Linked DNA regions of Homo sapiens: region 2 is reported to be linked to region 1. The links are microRNA targets in miRTarBase. Many come from high-throughput screens and were not tested one by one. Region 1 holds a microRNA gene; the other region holds the end of a gene's coding sequence.
What was found. Region 1 holds the annotated microRNA hsa-miR-380-3p (UAUGUAAUAUGGUCCACAUCUU, at 1,339-1,360, opposite strand). A microRNA usually pairs through its seed, bases 2 to 8, with sites in the 3' UTR of a target mRNA and lowers its output. Matches are read on the target gene's strand: a 7mer-m8 pairs with bases 2 to 8, a 7mer-A1 pairs with bases 2 to 7 and ends in A, and an 8mer does both.

Region 2: the mRNA of CAPZA2 is a reported target of hsa-miR-380-3p. Seed matches in the 3' UTR shown: 8mer at 1,595-1,602.

The regions. Positions count from the first base shown.
Region 1 is chr14:101,023,002-101,026,415 of GRCh38, reverse strand. It overlaps MIR380 (microRNA 380), which reads right to left and starts at 1,399; the gene lies at 1,339-1,399. LOC124903407 (mucin-2-like) reads right to left here. Exons shown (of 5, transcript XM_047432049.1): 5 at 1-3,414. MIR411 (microRNA 411) reads right to left here and starts at 3,091; the gene lies at 2,996-3,091. MIR299 (microRNA 299) reads right to left here and starts at 2,622; the gene lies at 2,560-2,622. It also overlaps MIR1197, MIR323A and MIR758.
Region 2 is chr7:116,917,021-116,920,434 of GRCh38, reverse strand. CAPZA2 (capping actin protein of muscle Z-line subunit alpha 2) reads right to left here. Exons shown (of 10, transcript NM_006136.3): 10 at 1-2,708. The coding sequence ends at 2,568. Among named protein-coding and RNA genes, the nearest start is that of ST7, 35 kb to the left of the region's middle. RefSeq lists a silencer at 1,491-2,205.

The sequences.
Region 1 (3,414 bases):
AGGTGTGACGGGCCAGGCGACCTTGGTTGTAAATTAAAGTGCATACACTCAGGTCAGCTGATCACTGGAGGACTTTGGGATGGTATAGACAGCATGCCCCTTCCCTTGAACTTGGATGCCTCCACATCTAGGAAGCCCTCCAAGGAAAGAGATCGGAGTGAAAATCAGTCCAACTCAGCCACATTTGGCATACATGTCGCAAACGCCTCGCAGATGCTCTCTTCAGAGTCTAACAGAGTGCAGCTGGCCCCAGTTTACTGTCTCTTTCCCAAAAAGTTGACACCTCTTCCAGGAAGTTCTCCAAGGGGGCATTAGATACTGAGGGTTAGTGGACCAGGTCACAAACGGCACAAATAAAGCGTGTGCTCTCTGGTCAACCATCTCATGTATCCAGGCACGTGCTGACACCACGCTCCTTGTCCGCAAGTTAACCCTGCTGCCAAGCCAGAGCAGTGTGCTGAGAAGAAGGCTGCCACACGTGAGTTATCGTCACACACAAGACAAACACATCACAAACCCCGCTGGGTCACACTGAGCGCAGACCTAGTGGCCCCCACCCCCGCAGTTGATGTTAGCTCCAGGAAAGCTTGCAAGGCGGGATTAGATACTGCAAAGAGGTCGACCGTGTAATGTGCGCCATAAATAAAGCGAACGCGCCACGGACCACCTCTCTCCAAGTACCAAGCAGCAGCCGTACTGACACCAGGACAGTGGCTCTTCCGCAAAGCTGATATCACCTCCTGGAAGTCTTCCAAGGCGAGATGTGATATTGAGAAGAAGTAGACCATGTGTCCTACGTCACAAATAAAGCGTACACACCATGGTCAACCGCATCTTCAAATACCAGGAAGTGACGCTGACCCCTGGCTCTCTTCCTTTCACCTGCTATCACCTCCAGAAAGCCTCACAATGCGCATCATGAACTACCAGCCACCGGCAATGTGGCAATGACCACAAACCCACATCCAATGCCACTACCACCTCCAGGATGCCCTGTAAGGGTGGGACCGGTACTGAGTTCTTGGCTGGTGGACCAAATGGCCAATGTAATAAATAAAGGACTGGGTCTGCAGCCAACCACCCGGTGACCTGCACTGCACCCTGGCTACCACTCAGGCCTGGCTCTCAAGTCGGCATGGCCTCCGGGAAGCCCCAGGGCTGGCTGATACTGAGAATGAGTGGACCATGCTACATCTGTCATTCAACAATGCATATGCTTTATGCTCTACCATCTCTCCAAGTACTGTGGAATGGCGCTGAAGCCAGATCAGTGTGTCTCCCACGAAGGTGACTTTGCCTCTCTCTGGGAAGCCCTCTATGACTGAATTTGATATTGAGAAGATGTGGACCATATTACATACGACACAGAGATAGCGCATGTTCTATGGTCAACCATCTTTTCAGGTACCTTGGAGAGGGCTGAGGTCAGAGCCGGTGTCTCTTTCCTCTCACTAGCATCACCTCCAGGAAGCCCTCTGAGGCCTGATGTAGTATTGAGAAGAGGCCACCATGCAATGTCTGCCGCAGATGCAGTGGACGCAGCACAAAGGAGCCCCTCAAGAATGGAGATGATGCTGGAACTAGTGCTATGACTGACACTCGTTCCTGCCTACAGAAAGCCCCCCGAGGTGCACGCTGTTATAGGAAGGTGGACGAAGTAACATGCGTTGTAAGTAAAACATATGAAGCATGGCCAACTTCTACTAAGTACCCCGAGGCAGTACTTGTACCAGAACTGGTGCTTTGTCTCCTAAGCTTAACATAACCTCCCTGGAGACTTTCCAGGCTGAATGGGATACTTCAAAAGAAGTAGACCATGTTACATACGTCATGGGGAAAAGACATGCAGTGTGGCTGAACCCTTTTCAGGTACCGTGAGGTCAGTGAAGAGGCCAGAACCAGTGCTCTGTCCCTGAGGCTGGCAGCTTCTTCAGCAAGTTCTCCAAGCAAGGGTTCTGGGATGGAGATAGGGAAGAAGTGGGCCATGGAGGCACTTCCTCTGTAAACATACACGATGGGGTCGAGCAGCTCTTCATGAGGATCAGTGCTGAGTCCAGAGCTGGGACATCTTCCCCCGAGATGGCTAGACTTGAGATGGAAAAAAGATAGACTGTACACGCATCAGCAAAGACAAAAACGAGTCAGTGCGTCTTCAAGTACCTGGAGTGGCATCATCTCCTGGACCCATATCTGCTCCTACATGGGCGTACTGTCCTGAAGTCATCTGAGGAGGGCTCTGAGGATGAGAGGTGACCTGTTTCACATCCCTCGTTCATGAACATTTGCGGCACCAGCCACCGTTTCTTCAATTACTCCAGAGGGATGTGCCAACGTGGGCAGTAGGACACCTTCCTGGAGGTCATCCTTGTCCTGAGGAAGTCACTGGAGGCTGTGTTTGGCACTGAGGAGAAGACCGCATCACAAGCATTGACAGAGAAAGCACACATCTAAGAGTCTACCATTCCACCAAGTGCCATGGCATGGCGGATGCCGAGACCCGTGGCTCTCCTCTAACTCCAGGCTTTCTCCAGGGAGGTTTGGATGGCTGGGCTGGATACCAAGAAGCGGTTTACCATCCCACATACATATTCAAAATGTATGTGGGACGGTAAACCATTTCTTCAAGTACCGCACGATGGTGGTGGTGGTGGCTGGAAGAAGGCTCATGTCCACGAAGTTGCCTGAGGGCGCTTCTTCTAGGCTGCATTTGACGCTGAGAAGAAGCAGGTCACGGTGTCTACTGAATAAGCGTAGCGTAGTCAACCACGTCATTGAGCACCATGGAATGGCACTGATTCCGGGAAGAATCAAGGTCTCCTCCCCAGGGATGGCGCGATTTCCCAAGGCAGAACTTGATTTAAGAGGAGCGAGATTATGCCATTTTGCATCATGCAGAAAAACACATGCCATACAGAAAATCATCTCTTCGGGTGTCATGGAGAAGTGGTGGTGGGTCCAACCGTTCCTCCCCGAAGACAGCGTTGTTTCCAGGAGCCTCGGGGATGGATTTGATACTGAGGGTTAGTGGACCGTGTTACATACGTCACAGATAAAGCGTACGCTATACGGTCTACTATCTCTCCAAGTACCACACAGAGATGCCGAGGACAAAGGCTCAGGACACATCCAGAAAGCCCTCCAAGGCCTTGAGCTGGGTGGAACCAGAAGGGAGGTTGAGCACAGCACATGCATCATGCGACAAGCACACACAGGCCAGGAGTCTCGTCTTCATGGTCGGGGGTTGACATGAATGCTCGAAGCAGTGGCTCATCCCCAAAACTGGCAACTCCTCCAGGAAGCCCTTCGAGGCCGAAAGTCCCACTGAGAAGAAGTGGACGATGATATGGATTTCATCACTCCATAAATACTGATTAAGTGCCTGCTGTGTGCCAGGCGCACTGTGCTGGGTCTGAA
Region 2 (3,414 bases), not on the chromosome of region 1:
CAACTAGATTACTGCAGTAGTCTCCTAGCTGTTCTCCCTGATTATGCCTTTGCCACCACACTTCAGCCTACTCAGCAAAGCAGCCATAATGTCTCCTACTAAAATTACATCCCTGAGCTATAGGATACTCTGGGTTTCCATTCTTCTTTCACTTTAATAAATGCCATTCTTTTATTATTATTATTATTTTGAGACAGAGGCTCCCTGTGTCACCCAGGCTGGAGTACAGTGGCTCGATCTCTGCTCACTGCAACCTCCACCTCCCGGGTTCAAATGATTCTCCTGTCTCAGCCTCCTGAGTAGTTGGGATTACAGGCGCGCATCACCATCCCCGGCTAATTTTTTTTTGTTTTTAGTAGAGACGGGGTTTCAGCATGTTGGTCAGGCTGGTCTCGAACTCCTGACCTCGTGATCCACCCGCCTCGGCCTCCCAAAGTGCTGGGATTACAGGTGTGAGCCACTGTGCCCTGCCTAATAAATGCCATTCTTATACTATAAAAGACTATTCTGTGCCATCATTATTTCAGACTGTTCTAAATTATATTATTATTATTATTATTATTATTTTTTGAGACAGAGTCTTGCTCTGTCACCCAGGCTGGAGTGCAGTGGCGCGATCTCGGCTCACTGCGAGCTCCGCCTCCCGGGTTCACGCCATTCTCCTGCCTCAGCCTCCCGAGTAGCTGGGACTACAAGCGCCTGTCACCACACCCGGCTAATTTTTTGTATTTTTAGTAGAGACAGGGTTTCACTGTGTTAGTCAGGGTGGTCTCAATCTCCTGACCCCGTGATCCACCCGCCTCGGCCTCCCAAAGTGCTGGGATTACAGATGTGAGCCACCGCGCCCAGCCTGTTCTAAATTATTTTTGATAAATCTTCCGTCTCACAAGCAAATCACCTTAAAAACAGTTGCATACATTTTCAGTAATGCATTCCAGACTAGAACAGAGATAGGAAATTGATGACTTTCATGGGATAGAAACTCATGATGGCCTAACTGATACAACTAAGCTTGTCAATTAGATCTAGTATTTAGTTCACCATCATCAAACTTTCAAATATATATATTTTAAAAAGGAACAGATAATTAATGTTACCAATTCATTTTCTTTAGGAATCCCAATGTGCCAAAACTTGTATTTTAAAACTAAAGAAAAGATGATTTAGACAAAATGTCATAATTTCATATTATATTCTCAATGCTTTCAAAGCCCAACAGTGATTTTAAAAAGAAATTAAACAACATGCTTTCATTGAATTTTTAAAAATCTATACAATTCAAGCTAATGAAATATTTTATTGTACATAATAAAAGTGGTGTTTTTCTAAAAAAAAAAACAATAAAATAAAATAAAAAAAAAATTTCCAGGCCCAGACGTCTGTGGGAGTACGTGAGGAAAGGATTCCACTCAAGTATAATCAGCAATACTCTATTGAATGAAACCATAACTCCACTTCACTCCCTATGGTAAATACTAACATTCACCACAGGCTTGAAATTCCTGTAGCATCAGTAGAACTATTTTTGAAAATATTACAAACATGCTTATGATGCATAGGAGGATGAAAAAATTTAGACTGTAACCGCACACCATATGTAATCCCAGCTTTTCTAATTTACAACCAGTTAAGAATTACAATATCCAAAGAAAGTATTTTAAAATATATATGCTCACTGGTAAGTGATTTTCTACTCAAATAAATAGGAAAATTTGCATTTTAATGTCACATTGAATTTCAGTACTTTTCAATCCAAGAAAAAAAAAATAAACCGAGACATGGTCATGAGTTCAGGATTATATATATTACAATTTGCCTTGTTATAATACATTTGTGGCTTTATGATAAAAATAACTCAGGGACATATGGAATTCAAGCTGATTTGCGTAACTGTCACAAGAAAAAAAGCATTAAATGCATTTCTGAAATAAGTATTTTCATTAATTTCAGAATCTCAAAACAGCATTAGACCTTGCCTTGTTTAAAAAAAATTTAGTTCAACACTAAGCTAGCTAAATAACCTTCTTGAAAGGTTTAAACACAATTGATATAGAAAATGCTTTCCCTCTAATCTCAACTTTACATAAATGGAACAGGTGAGGAAGAAAAGGTAGACAATTTCTTTAGCAGCATATATGGCTAAATCCATCAACCACCTTAAACTAGAATGTCCATTATTGACCCCATTAAAAAGAACTGGGGAAATATCAAAAATTACTGATTTCATAAACCAAAAGACATCAATTTTAGGGTTACAGTTAGTAAAATATTTTTGAGACACTTCAAAAACTTTTAACCATAAACTAGAAGAATCATCTCTTCATTGTAAGAAAGAAAGGCCTAACAGAAAGACATTTAAACTAAACTGATTTTCAATCCTCTTAGAACAAACAAAATGAAAAATAATGGTTGATTAGCTAAGCTTTGTGCTCTAATCAAACTAATTAATTACAGTGATTTTAAATGGCAACAGCCCATCTGACTGGGCAGCTTGACAGTTCAGAATACTTTTGCAATGATTTTTTAACGCAAAGACACTAAAATGATCCGGTCATGCAATGTTCATCTTATGCATTCTGCATCTCTTTGCCAATCTTGTAGCTAAGGATCTTGTTCCAATCAATCTTAGTGCGTGTAACTGGCAACTGTCGACGTAAGGCTTTGAAAGTAGTGTCCGACATTGTCTGATAATTCTCACTGATGGCAGTCTATGAAAAACAATAGTTAGAAGTTTAAAGTAAAGCAAAGAACAGAACAATTTATAAAGCACATAGATGTTTTCAGAATAAGTTTTATTTAAGCAGCCTGTTTCACTGTTTTTAAACAGTCAAATAAAATCCCAACATTGTTTTAAAAGCTGTTTAACAGCAGCTAGAAGAGCCGGGCGCGGTGGCTCACGCCTGTAATCCCAGCACTTTGGGAGGCTGAGGTGGGCGGATCACGAGGTCAGGAGATCGAGACCATCCTGGCTAACACAGTGAAACCCTGTCTCTACCAAAAATACAAAAAAAAATTAGTCGGGCATGGTGGCGGGCGTCTGTAGTCCCGGCTACTCGGGAAGCTGAGGTGGGAGAATGGCGTGAACCTGGAAGGCGGAGCTTGCAGTGAGGCGAGATCGCGCCACTGCACTCCAGCCTGGGCCACAGAGCAAGACTCTGTCTTCAAAAATAAATAAATAAATAAATAAAATAAAAGCAGCTAGAAGAAAAAGCCTATAATAATTTTGAATAAACTTAATGAAATAAAACTATAAATTAGACTTAATATTTGTGTGTCATTTTGAATTTATTTTAGTATGTCAGAACAATTTATAGATTATTATTTTTAAGGAGTAGAAACTTGTCCAATTCACAAATTAAATGGTTCAATTCAAGAGTGTAGTTTAGAAGCTGATAAATAATATAAAAAGTAAAG